Homo sapiens: one gene and its partners. The protein of the gene in region 2 purifies or fractionates together with the protein of the main gene of each other region. This does not show direct contact. Each region holds a gene or a part of one and is shown on either strand. Other genes may lie near its edges.

What was found. The genes of interacting proteins can lie anywhere in the genome.
Region 1: the proteins of HEATR1 (region 2) and RIC3 purify together in Homo sapiens (co-immunoprecipitation; one large-scale study listed by IntAct). This does not show direct contact.
Region 3: the proteins of HEATR1 (region 2) and UXS1 purify together in Homo sapiens (co-immunoprecipitation; one large-scale study listed by IntAct). This does not show direct contact.
Region 4: the proteins of HEATR1 (region 2) and OSTM1 purify together in Homo sapiens (co-immunoprecipitation; one large-scale study listed by IntAct). This does not show direct contact.

The regions. Positions count from the first base shown.
Region 1 is NC_000011.10:8,138,026-8,141,525, forward strand, and holds part of RIC3 (protein RIC-3 isoform a precursor), read right to left. Parts: intron 2,169-3,500; coding exon 1,942-2,168; intron 323-1,941; coding exon 247-322; intron 1-246. UniProt on the Homo sapiens protein: Molecular chaperone which facilitates proper subunit assembly and surface trafficking of alpha-7 (CHRNA7) and alpha-8 (CHRNA8) nicotinic acetylcholine receptors.
Region 2 is NC_000001.11:236,556,017-236,559,516, reverse strand, and holds part of HEATR1 (HEAT repeat-containing protein 1), read left to right. Parts: intron 1-381; coding exon 382-522; intron 523-987; coding exon 988-1,280; intron 1,281-2,171; coding exon 2,172-2,322; intron 2,323-3,258; coding exon 3,259-3,417; intron 3,418-3,500. UniProt on the Homo sapiens protein: Ribosome biogenesis factor; required for recruitment of Myc to nucleoli. Involved in nucleolar processing of pre-18S ribosomal RNA. Required for optimal pre-ribosomal RNA transcription by RNA polymerase I.
Region 3 is NC_000002.12:106,187,802-106,191,301, reverse strand, and holds part of UXS1 (UDP-glucuronic acid decarboxylase 1), read left to right. Parts: intron 1-3,500. UniProt on the Homo sapiens protein: Catalyzes the NAD-dependent decarboxylation of UDP-glucuronic acid to UDP-xylose. Necessary for the biosynthesis of the core tetrasaccharide in glycosaminoglycan biosynthesis.
Region 4 is NC_000006.12:108,040,909-108,043,741, reverse strand, and holds the end of OSTM1 (osteopetrosis-associated transmembrane protein 1 precursor), read left to right. Parts: 3' UTR 1-2,333; downstream 2,334-2,833. UniProt on the Homo sapiens protein: Required for osteoclast and melanocyte maturation and function.

The DNA of each region.
Region 1 (3,500 bases), on a different chromosome or scaffold from region 2:
AGTCATTCCAAACGTGAAATATTAATTTGCTAATATATTAAAAAGTGAACTGGTGGTTTTGTACTTTTTGTAGTACATCAATATAAAAACTTTTGAGAATTCCCAGAACTAAGGCAAAAATGGCATCAGATTAATTTGGAGCAACTTTTGAGAAATGCTTTTAAGACATACCCACAGACTGTCCCTGTGGCTATAAAACTGTTTGACTCAATAATACCTGTGAATATACTGAGAAGGGGCACTTACTAATTTTCCTGTGGGTGTTTCCAGGCATGGCAGTATAGCATTTCCCATCCTCTGCAGTTGTTTTCCCCTTTGAGAGCTGAGAATTGAAGGAGGTATAGCACATCAACAGCAGCTCAGAACCTCAGTCACGGAACCCCTCATATCAAACAAAAAAAAAAGGTTGGGAAACAAAAATGAAGGTCAGAAATTAAATCAAATAGCAACACTAGAGAAATAGCTCAAAAAAAAAAACGCCAAAAGATGAGGTTTCCAAGTAAAAAATTATCAAAGCACAAGTGTAAAAAGTAAAGTAGAGATTCCTCTTCAAAGAGACTTTACTCCCCATATAATTAGGAATAGTAACTTCTCTTAGAAGCAAAATTTATTCAAGAACCTGTGCTAACATGCTTAGATATCTGCTAGCCATAATAAAGAAATCAACTGTTCTTAGCTCCCACAGTTTAGCCTAAATATTTGCCCTGGCATGCTTATACTTGTCAAAGCAAGCATGAGGTCATAGCCTGTTCCTCTTCCTTATATGAAGGTGTTTTTACCTTTCTCAGCATTCCACAAGTTAGTTCCTCCTTCCTTTGTTCTCCTCTGCCTTTGCCTCTTTTAAAAAGTTCTAAGTCGCTAGCCAATCAGCACAAATACAGAATGTGAGGTCCCGTTCCAGCCAATGGAAACCGGACACAGCAGTAAGGTGGATGCGTCAGGTTATAAATGACCCTGTCTCCTTTGTTCGGTGTACTCTCACGGCAAAACCGCTGGTGAGTGTACCCTTTCTGCAGAAAGTAAAAATGGCCTTGCTGAGGAAATTAAATGTACGTCCAAGTGCTGCTTCTTTATGGCACCAGAGAACAAGCATTTCTAACACAAGGGAAAAAAAATCTCCCTACAGGTCATCTTCCTTGCTCATGCTCATCTAAAAGGGATGTGTGGCACCCTATGGGCATTCTTACAGACTCAACTCAGACTGCCTGCAGAATTCCTGGGCGAGAAAGAACTCATCTTATTTAAGCTTACTCTAGACAGGAGGGCAAAGTGAGTCTTCTGCCTCTAATTCACAGTACAGGGGCCAGGGGCCTGCAAAGGCCTGCCTGGAGGTGGAACTCAACTGGGGGTCTGCTTTAAAGAACCTACACCCATGTCTCCCCAGAGCTAGGAAATATCAGGCTTAATTTCAGGAGGGACAGTTCTGTCTCAGGAGAATTATTGGAGATAATATTAAAAACAGCATCTCAAATTCCTGTGGAGAAACAAGCAGGATAAAGTGGTGTCATTATTTGGCCTTACAATGGCTATTTGGAAATCACTGTGCCAATCCCAATAATAAAAGCTCTTCTTAGAAAATCTTTATTCCTTTTCGGCCTGTAAAGATGTTAATTTTTTTTTTTTTTTTTTTTTTTTTGGCAGGGGAGTGCATTGAATTGTATCACTCACTGGATTAAGAACCAAAAGATCCATGTTCAAGTCCTAGTTCTGCCTTGTTAGTTGTGAATTTTGGGGCAAAACACTTAAACATTGAGTAAACATTTCTTATGTGAAACTGAAATAATGGCTATCCTAAGTACCTCATGAAGAGGAGGCAGGATTTAAAGAGATGATGGATTTGAAATAATTTTATGAACTATAAGAAGTTTTAATGTAGACAATGATTTTTATTGCCATATTAGATTTTCATTGATGTAATATGATTAGGATGATTCTACTTACCTTAAATAGAATGTACAGTATATATAAAAAAATCCCAAAACCGTAGATTGGAATAATCTGCCCCATCAGACCTCTTCCACTACCTCCTCCTCCAGCACCTCCACCTGATCCTTTGGCCTTTGCAAATGCCTCGGCAAGGTGAGACCTCTGGAAACGAGCCCCAGGAGTCTGGCCATCTGAGGGTGCCTGGTGATGATGCATCATAGGTGGAAATCGGCCCAATTTTCCTGAGAAAATAATAATCACTTTTTATCTCTTCTACTATTTTAAAGATGGCTATCATGAAAACACCAAATCATTAAGGTATAAAAGAGGCCAACACAAACAAGTAGAAGAAAAAAATGGCAACTTAATTAAAAGGATACAGAGGTATCACACATATCCTAAATATGATGTGATCATCTCTAGCTGTTCACCAAACCCATTTTCTCTTCCCTCTGGGTCCTTAGCTGGACCACATTTTTCAGACTCCCATACAGTTAAATGTGGCCATATAAACTGAGTTCCAACCAAGGAATGTGACTAGGACTGTGCTAGCTCAAGGCCTGGTCTATAAAATCTCCCTTGTTATTCAACTCCGTGATCATTTCTTTTCTGCAGCATGGATGCTAACACCCACGGGGACCTTGGAAGCCACGGGTAGAAACAGCAAAGCCTCCATCAACCTGATTCCTAAATAATTATGTAGTGCAGAGCCCTCCACTGCTGCCACCTCACTAACTTAGAGTCATCTGGACCTGTCTGTAAGAGTGAGAAATCAACTTCTATTGTGTTAGGGTCATTATACACTGTGGAATCTATTTGTTACAGCAGTTAGCCACCCCTAACTAATACAGATAAGAAAATACAGACTAACAGCGGATCTCTCGGCAGAAACCCTACAAGCCAGAAGAGAGTGGGGGCCAATATTCAACATTCTTAAAGAAAAGAATTTTCAACCCAGAATTTCATATCCAGCCAAACTAAGCTTCATAAGTGAAGGAGAAATAAAATACTTTACAGACAAGCAAATGCTGAGAGATTTTGTCACCACCAGGCCTGCCCTAAAAGAGCTCCTGAAGGAAGCGCTAAACATGGAAAGGAACAACCGGTACCAGCCGCTGCAAAATCATGCCAAAATGTAAAGACCATCGAGACTAGGAAGAAACTGCATCAACTAACGAGCAAAATCACCAGCTAACATCATAATGACAGGATCAAATTCACACATAACAATACTAACTTTAAATGTAAATGGACTAAATGCTCCAATTAAAATACACAGACTGGCAAATTGGATAAAGTCAAGACCCAACAGTGTGCTGTATTCAGGAAACCCATCTCACGTGCAGAGACACACATAGGCTCAAAATAAAAGGATGGAGGAAGATCTACCAAGCAAATGGAAAATAAAAAAAGGCAGGGGTTGCAGTCCTAGTTTCTGATAAAACAGACTTTAAACCAACAAGATCAAAAGAGACAAAGAAGGCCATTACATAATGGTAAAGGATCAATTCAACAAGAGGAGCTAACTATCCTAAATATATATGCACCCAATACAGGAGCACCCAGATTCATAA
Region 2 (3,500 bases):
GAACATGTACCTCGTATATTTTAATAATTAAGTCATATAATATATACTGTTCTACTTTATTCAAGTGGAATAAAATAAAAGTATGAAGTATATTACATACATATCACTGGCCTCGAAGTTAGGATTGCTGATTCAAATCTAGCTCAGTCATTTAGCTGCATGCCTTTGGCACTTCCTCCTGACATCAGGCTTTTGTTTTGTTCGATAATGTGTGGTTGGTAATGCCTACCTGAAAGGTTATTTTAAGAATTAAATAAGAAAATGTGTGTGGAAGTGCCTGGTGCCTGGAGGTGTGCAGTGGACAGCAGTCTGTCTTAATTGAAGTTGGTTTTTTTTTTAATTTGTTTTTCTTTTCATGTTAAATATAAAATTTCTCTTTAGGTCAATGCCTTGCTGCCCACAGAGACATTCATTCCTGTGATCAGAGGGCTGGTGGGCAATCCCCTGCCATCTGTTCGCCGCAAAGCGCTGGACCTTTTGAATAACAAGCTGCAGCAAAATATATCCTGGAAGAAGACAATAGTGAGTGAAGACCCAGGACACACCCATTTACTGTACTTTGCTTTATCAAAGAGCTGCATTTAACTCCCTTCAATTTCTCTAGTGGTACAATTTCAAATTGAAGTATATTATTTTCTGAATATAATACCATGACATGTTTTAAAATGTGACGTTAATTCTAACGGGAATATATGTGTGTTGTAAGAGCTCTTAGAATGGAATTTCAGCCTAGTGGAATTCTTGCTTACTACAGAGCTTACGTGGCCTTAGCCTTAGCATAGTTCTAAGTCCCTTTTACTCCAGATCAGTGGGTGCTTTGTATAAGTGAAACACTGGCTAGAACATGCACATCGCTTAGCATGACTGTGTGACTCAGGACCCCCGAGTCTGATTTCCATTTAGACAATCTCAAGCTGTGACAATGGGAAAATGGACAAACATTTTTTGCAGCTTTAATGATTTGGGGATTCTGGCTGTCCCCTTCAGGTTACCCGTTTCCTAAAACTGGTTCCAGACCTTTTGGCCATTGTGCAGCGTAAGAAAAAGGAAGGGGAAGAAGAACAAGCAATCAACAGACAGACAGCGTTGTATACCTTAAAGCTTTTATGCAAGAATTTTGGTGCAGAAAATCCAGATCCTTTTGTCCCAGTGCTGAACACTGCTGTGAAACTGATTGCTCCAGAGAGAAAGGAGGAGAAGAATGTCCTGGGAAGCGCGCTGCTGTGCATAGCAGAGGTGACCTCCACCCTGGAGGCGCTGGCCATCCCCCAGCTTCCCAGGTATGCGGCCGGAGACTTGGAACAGGAGCTGTTACCGCCTGGCACACATTGAAAAATAACACTTTGGTGACTTTTTTTTTTTTTCCTCTGAGTAGACGTTGCATAAAATTGGAATTTGTTAAAGAATTGATCTTGCAGGGTGTGGTGGCTCACGGCTGTGATCCCACCACTTTGGGAGGCCAAGGCAGGGAGATCGTTTGAGCCCAGGAGTTTGAGGCTGCAGTGAGCTATGACTGCACCACTGCACTGTAGCCTGGGCAACAGAGTGAGACCCTGTCTCTTAAAGAAATAATAATAAAAATAATTAATCTTCAAACAGAAAGATGCAGCCTTCCCGTTTATCTTCAGATGCACTACTTTGCAGTGTTAATCGTCCTCCATTCTTCCTTCCTTTTGTCTAGTATAGTCAAAAAGCAGTGGGTGAAGGTTCTTGGCAGAGGGGCCCACCCAGTTAGGCAAGGCCAAAGCTGCCTTCTGCTGCCAAATTTGGAAGTTAGAAGCTCCTGGCTGTGGTAGTTCCTTACTGTACAGCCAGTATGTTCCTTAACCTGTTAGAGCTTTGCTGTCTATAAAACAGAGACAGTATCTACCTCATAGGATTTCTGTAGGGCAGTGCTTGCAAGGAGTTTTGCATAGTGCCTGACACATAGTAAGTGTTCAGTTAATGAAAGACATTGTTATTTTTTAAATTACTGTTGTGTCCGTACTGTTAGCACTGGGAGATTTCTTGTGCTTAGCCACATAAAATGTATAGACACTGCTTTTTAGGCTATGAAGCAGATAGCGATGTAATAGGCACAGTTTGCTGGTTTTTTTCATAATGCCCTCTACTCCATTCCCTAGCCTCTGTTTCTGCTTCAAGTTCTTCTAAAGCTCTTACTTTGTTTCTAGCCTGATGCCATCGTTGCTGACAACAATGAAGAACACCAGCGAGCTGGTCTCCAGCGAGGTCTACCTGCTCAGTGCCTTGGCTGCTCTGCAGAAGGTTGTGGAGACTCTCCCGCACTTCATCAGCCCCTATCTGGAAGGCATTCTCTCCCAGGTGAGCCACGATAGCCACGACATGCTACGCAGGGTGGCTGGGGAAGGTAAAAGATCACAAATGTAGTGATTTTGTTTTTTCTTTAAGGGTTAGTTTCCGTTTGACAGAAAGGAGTCTTATTTCTGAAGAGATGTGCTTGCTTTTATTAAATGTGTACTTTTTCTCTTCCATCATCCTTGCCACTTAATCTTGAAATTGATATGGGGGTCACTTTTTAGCGAGATGCTTCTCTTCTTTAATTGTGCGGAATGTATTCTGGCTTTTTTTTCTTCTGTGAGATCTTTGGAGTTGGGCTGGTAGAGCCGCCTTTTATTACTTGTGGAAATTGATGGGCCCTGTTTCTACTGTGAGAGGTATAATCCTAAGGCATCTTGCAAAGCAGAATTTTTGTATTGCACGTCAGCGGTTTCCTGTCAACACGCTAGGGGCCAGTGGTATTTATGATTGAAGATGCTCAAGAATGTTGAGACCTGGCTGTTCCATTGTGTTGATCATTTGCCATTTACAAGGTTAGGAGCCTTCATTACCATGGGGCAAATGATTAAACCGCTTCACTTACACCACAGCCAGGGTTTAAAAGTAGCCTTCTCAGAGAAAGGGGCCTGTGCTCTGAGGAGCTTTCTCAGTTTTTTAGCAACTTGACTCTTGCCGTGGTCCCTTGCATTCCTGTCCTCTAAGAAAATCATCTGTCTGGGTGCTGTGTGTGCGTCTGCGTCTACCATCGGCCTTCGTCCCTGATCGCAAGTTGGGCAAGAGGTGTCTGCCCAGTTTTATCCACTGACGTTTAGGGCTGACTTTAAAAGGAATTCTGTGTGTAGTTAAAAAGTGCTAAGCATTTTCCAAACACTAGTACCTCATCATGAAGCCTCTCTGTAAGTGTGTGTTTGTCAGCGAAGATCTGCAGTGGCCCTGATCACTTTTTTTATATTCCTGTAGGTGATTCATCTGGAGAAAATCACTAGTGAAATGGGTTCTGCGTCACAGGCTAATATCCGTCTCACATCTCTTAAAAAGACACTGGCTACCACACTTGCACCCCGAGTCCTGTTGCCCGCCATCAAAAAAACTTACAAGCAGATTGAGAAGAACTGGAAGGTTAGATCTTATTGGGTATTAAGACTTTGGAGAAGGGAGAGGTGGTACTGCAATGTGTAAACTTTGACTTAAAGAAGAAGATT
Region 3 (3,500 bases), on a different chromosome or scaffold from region 2:
TTCCCAATTATATACACCCTCACTGTTAGCCAGCCTCCGTTGCAGAAATGCCCTCCCTGTTTCGGGAACAGAACTCAAGTTCTGTTAGCCTTTCTCCTTCTCCTCCTTACATCTTTCCCAAAGTCTTTGTTACCTACTCTGGCCCTGAGTCTCCTCCTTGATACCACATAACTCTTCTTCATGTCTTAGGGTTGACCACCTGCTAACTTGCATTGTACTTGAGTTCTTTCCCATTCATATGTTGGCTTTTTTTTCTCAATGAAATCCCGATTCTGAGGACAGGGATTGTGTCTTATGTGTTTCAGCCCTTGAAACATTTATAGCAGTGCTAATGGCTCATTGAAAGAACTCAGTTTCTGCCCTTTGTGCTGAATCAAAAATCAGGCCAACCTACTAGGTAGCTCCTGGGCAGACTGCTTGAATTACCTTTAACGTATTTTTTTTTAACATGCATATAGTGTAAAAAGTTAAATAGCTTCTGCAGGGCCAAACAGTATCCCCTGCCACCATTTCCCTCTCCCCAGAAGCAGGCACTTCATTTCTTTTTTTTTTTTTTTTGATACAGAGTTTCGCTTTTGTTGCCCAGGCTGGAGTGCAGTGGCGTGATTTCGGCTCACTGCAACCTTGGCCTCTTGGGTTCAAGCGATTCTCCTGCCTCAGCCTCCTGAGTAGCTGGGATTACAGGCATGCGCCACCACGCCCGGCTAATTTTGTATTTTTAGTAGAGACGGTTTCTCCATGTTGGTCAGGCTGGTCTCAAACTCCTGACCTCAGGTGATCTGCCTACCTCAGCCTCCCAAAGTGCTAGGATTGCAGGCGTGAGCCACCGCACCCAACCCCTAGGCATTTCACTTCTTTTAGTTGATTATTTTGGTATTTATCATTGTGCCATTGAATCACCTGGCTTCCTGATTTTTCAGTTGTAGATATTACCTAGTGACTTTGTTCTTTGGGAGATGATTTTTTTCTTCTCTTTGCCCCTGTACATGCTCTCCACCCTCCTATATAGATGTGGTATAATCTCACGGAGCTCATCATGCAGTGTTTACAAGCATGACTATGTAAATGCTGTTCCTAGTGAGTCATGTTGTAGGTTACTTTTTGTTTTCTCCAGCGAATAATTGGCTGGTGTTCTAATTTGCTTGCTTTCTATGTAGTATGACAGATCCAACTCCAAACTCTTTGCCAGTTGTCTGTCGCGTCTTCCCCCATGATGTTCATGAGCATCAGGATGCCCCTTGGTCAGCACCCCTTCCTGAAGAAGGGCCCCGGGGCCTTCTACTGCAACTTGTGGATACATCTGAGGGTCAGCTGCCAGCCTCACCACCTGCACCCACATCAGCCTGGACCTACCCACTGCAGGACTTCTGTTTCCTGACTTCCTCTTCCTGACTCCCTCTTGTTTCACTCCCTGGTTTGGATGTGATGGGAAGTGAATTCTGAGACTTTACCCATAAGTATATTTTCTGCCTTCATGTCTGATAGATTGATAGTGTAGAATTATAGAAAAAAAGTTCCTTTAGAATTTTTGAAGCATTGGTCCAATCCTTTTTGGCCTCCAGTATTGTTGAAGAATTTCAAGCCAGTCCTTCTCTTTCTGAAGATTGTAGCATCTTCCTTTCGGGTCTAGTTGTCAGTGCTCGCCACACATGTCCAGCCCCCTGTCCCCCAGGCTCTTGGTAGGATTGCCCTCCCTTCCTCACTCCCTGAGCTTGATGGCCTCACATGGTTGTTGTGCCAGTGGCCTGCCCAGGAGCTGAGCGGAAGTGCTACTTCCACTTCTGGGCCTGCACTTCGCTGCGAGTGTAAGTTGCTGCCAGAGTTTTCCTTCCCTCTAGTTAGGTTCTGAACTCAGCTTGACAATGATGATACTCAGCTTGCAGAACCCCCTCCCACCCATGCTATGACCCTGTTCGATTGAAATAAACTTGAAGAATAAATCTTGGTTGTTGTAGGCCTCTGAGGGCTTTTGGGCTGCTCATTGCTGTAGTTTAACAATGCCTGCCCTGACTGATACATCCGTGGTGTTCCAAGATCCACAGTGCTAGGCCTTGGTGTATTTTATCCAGCATGTTGGGCATTTTTTGTGCCCTGGCAATCCAGAAACACTTATTCTTCAGTTATGGGAATTTTCTTGAATTATTCTTTGGTGATTTTCTCCCCTCCCATTTTCTATTTCATCTCTTTCTGGGACTACTACTATTCTGATATAGGATTGCTGGACCAATCCTCTTATTTCCTATTTTCTACCATTTTAAGGTTGTTGCACTTTTGGGACGTCTCCTCATTTTTGTATTTAGACTCTTCTAGTGATTTTTTTACATTTTATTTTTGCCATACTTTTTCATGTATAAGAGTTCTTTTTTGTTCTGTGAACTTTTTTAAAAAACTAAAACATGGTCTTCATTTCATGGTATATTCTCTGGATTTTTAAAAAATTTGTTTTCTTTTCTCTTTACTGAAGGATCTCTTTCCTCTAGGCTGCCTTCCCGTTTCTGTGTGAGGCTCTCCTCAGATGGCCTGCCCATGTTTAAGAGTGGGGGACTCTGTAGGGATGGGCACTGCCTTCTGTGAGCTGAACCTTTCCTTGTTGGGGCCTTCTGACCTTAGTGCTGCGGGTTGGTCCTCCCGGGCTATTGTCACAAGACTCTCCCTGGTCCCTGCAGGAAGGGGAGGCTTGGCTGCCTGCATCCTGGAGCCCAGTGAGCGAGGGCTGTAGCCTAATCAGTAACCTGATTGTCCCAGGGGGATCTGGGCTCCTCTGTCAGAGACCCTGATTCCACCCTCTCCAGAGATGGAGCCACCTGTCTTCTGCCAGGGTGGGACAGGAGCTGGAACTTGTCCTGCTTCTTAGATGTCTTTGAAAATCAGACTTCCTGTCTCTGCTGCCTCCACACCCATTGCAGATGCTCCAGGCCTGGCCCAGTTCTTGACCCTAAGTATAAATGGGCCATTCCACTGCCCGCCCACGTCCGTGCCCTCTCCATGTCCCCATATTCACCTATCTTCTTTTTCCTATCCAGTAGCATTTTGGTGCCTGTTCTCCCTTCCCCTTCTCCCTGTCCACGTGGATTGATTCCTTAAACAAGAACAAAAAAGAAGTCAGGGAGGAGGGATATGGAGAGAGGGGCAGGGAGGAAAATAGATTGCCTATATTCAAAAAAAGAAAAGAAATCAAAGACAAAAGACATTTTCTGATGTTTTAGTCGGGTTTAGGAGCCATTATCTTTTCACCTTTAGCCTTTGAAAGTTAGAGTTAAGGCTGGTCGCGGTGGCTCATGCCTGTAATCCCAGCATTTTGGGAGGCCAAGGCAGGTGGATCACCTGAGATCGGGAGTTTGAGACCAGCCTGGCCAACATGGTGAAACCCCGTCTCTAGTAAAAATACAAAAAATTAGCTGGGCATGGTGGCGGGCGCCTGTAATCCCAGCAACTCAGGAGGCTGAGGCAGGAGAATCTCGTGAACCCGGAGGCGGAAATTGCAGTGGGCCAAGATCGTG
Region 4 (2,833 bases), on a different chromosome or scaffold from region 2:
ATTGTTTCTAAATTATTTCAATCAGATGAAAGTGATACGATTGAAATGAAATCACATAGTTCGTGCTCAGAAATTCTATTTTGGTATGTTTGTATTAGCCTTTAGAAAAAACACTCCGTTTCAGAATTGTTCACAGTTTTATTTCTTAGGTTTTTAGAGTTCAGGATTTCATTTATTAATTTCTTCTTGCTTTTTTGGTGGAAATAGGCTTTGTTGTAAACATTAAGAATATAAAATCTCCTCTATATAGAAACAAGAATTTTGTTAAAAAGAGAATTTGAATCCCTTCCTATACTATAAAATGCTCTATAGGGAGACAAAGTGTTTCTTTTTTCTTTTATGTTTACTGTTTATGTGGAGTGAAATATAAGGCTCTTGGATGTATAACATACTCAAAAGCTGTTACACTTTCTCTGATCTGCTGTGATCCACTGAAAATGTGCTGGGGTTTGTTCTGCTGTCACTGTTTATGCTGCTGGAACTTAGCACTGTCTTGATTTGAAGCATATGATTGAGAGCCATTTGAAGCAATCTTCATTAATGCAGATAAAACAAGTTTACATGTGCAGAGTTAGAAAATGACATGTTCAATTCTGTAAGTGGTGACTTTTTGAGCACCTTTCAGTATTATGTATTTGTAAAAACCATTGTTTTTGGATATAAAGCTAATAAGCACTTTAAAAAGGAAAAGGCAGCCTTTACTATTTTTTCTGGTTGAGTCATTGCTCTTTAGACCTAGCATCAGCAATAGATTTCAAAGATAAGTATTAAGCGCTACCCTAAAGTGTGTAAGTTTTTCATTTTGTCATATTGAAAAATGATTTGCATAGTACTGAATGTTGACACACAGCTTATATGTATTTACAAGAATATCTTTAAGTGTTTTTTTGACACATTAAAATAAAGGAAATAAGGAAATTGTAAGCTTTATTTGGATTTTTAAATACATTTTTAAAATTTCAGATGTAATTTAACATCACATTTGTTTTTCAGGTATTGAGTTTAGATGCCTACTTTTATGAGTACCATCAGCTGGACACAGTGTCTCATACCTGTATTTGCAGCACTTTGGGAGGCTGAAGCAGATCGCTGGAGCTTATGAGTTCGAGACCAGCCTGGACAACATAGTGAAACACTGTCTCTGCAAAAAATACAAAAATTAGCTGGGTATGGTGGTAAGTGCCTGTAGTCCTAGCTACTTGGGAGGCTGAGATGGGAGGATGTCTTGAGCCCGGGAGGTGGAGGTTGCAATGAGCCAAGATTGTACCACTGCATTCCAACCTGGGCGACAGAGCCAGACCTTGTCTCAAAAAAAAAAAAAAAAAAAGAAAAAAGAAAGTACTGTCTGTCTTAAATTTTGCTGCAAATAAAAATGTACTTTGGATTATTTATTGTTGAACTTGAGAGATAGAAATAACATCAGATATATTTTTTCTTTTTTTTTTATAATTAATTTTTTTTTTTTTTTTTTTTGTAGAGACAGTGTCTCACTATGTTGCCCAAGCTGGTCTTGAACTCCTGAGTTCAAGAGATCCTCCTGCCTTAGCCTCCCAAAGTGCTGGGATTACAAGCATAAGCACCACACCTGGCTGAACATCAGATATTTTAAAGTGTAGCCCAGAGTCTAGTTGGTAAATGTTACTTATATTGGGACTAGTATTTTCTAATGTTTCTGGGATATGCTCCCTATAAAATGAAATGTTTTCCTGGAACAATGCTAATTAGGATTGCATTCCTGGCCAAAGACATGACATCAAATAAGTAATAGACATCACCAGCAATGAATTTTGAAAAGCAAAAAATACTATTAACCTATATAACCATTTAAAATTTAAAAAATTATGTTCCAAGTACCTCTATTTTCTGAGCTAGAAGAAACCTTAGAGGCCATCTGATGATAGATTCCCAGAGCTGGATGGATCCCTAGGGACTACCTAATCTGACTTTCTGTCCACTGCATGGATTCTTCTAAAAAGTATGTCACTTATTTCCCTACCTTATTAAGACTAAATAAGTGGAACATCATAGAGCTCTTTATTTATAACAGTCATTCTTTGATAGTCAACTCTTAAATGGAGACTTGAGATGCTTAAATATTGTACTACTGTGCTTATCTTGTAAAGATTTCATAAAATGATAGTATTGGTTATTTTAAAAAGGCTTTGGCTTATGCTGAATTATACATGTAGCACCAAAATGTTACAACTCTACTAAATTTCCTTGTTCTAAACTATTATATTAGCTATAATAAATATTAGTCATACATGTAACATGTTTAATGACAAATAACTTTCTTTATCTCCTTGGAATTAAAGAGGGCTTTTAAAAGATAATTTGACTGATCCATGCTTCTTACAGTGTGGAGCTTTGCAATGATGATTTTTTAAATATGTTTTTCTTGTGATAAACAGGTATTTTTTAAAATCTGCTGGGTGTGGTGACTGGTACCTGTAATCCCAGCACTTTGGGAGGCTGAAGCGGGAGGATCACTTGAGCCCGTGAGTTTGACACCAGCCTGGGCAATATAGTGAGACCTTGTCTCTACAAGAAATTAAAAAACTAGCTGAGCATCATGGTGTGTACCTGTAGTCCCAGCTACTCAGGAGGCTGAGGTGGGAGGATCGCTTGAGTCTAGGAGGCAGAGGTTGCAGTGAGCCAAGATTGTGCCACTGTACTCCAGCCTGAGTGACAGAACAAGACCCTGTCTCAAAAAAAAAAAAAAAAAATCCATCTCAGTACCCCAATGCAATCAAAAGATTTCAGAGCTTTAAAATGAATGATGCTGGGTGCAGTGACTCCTGCCTGTAATCCCAACACTTTGGGAGGCTGAGGC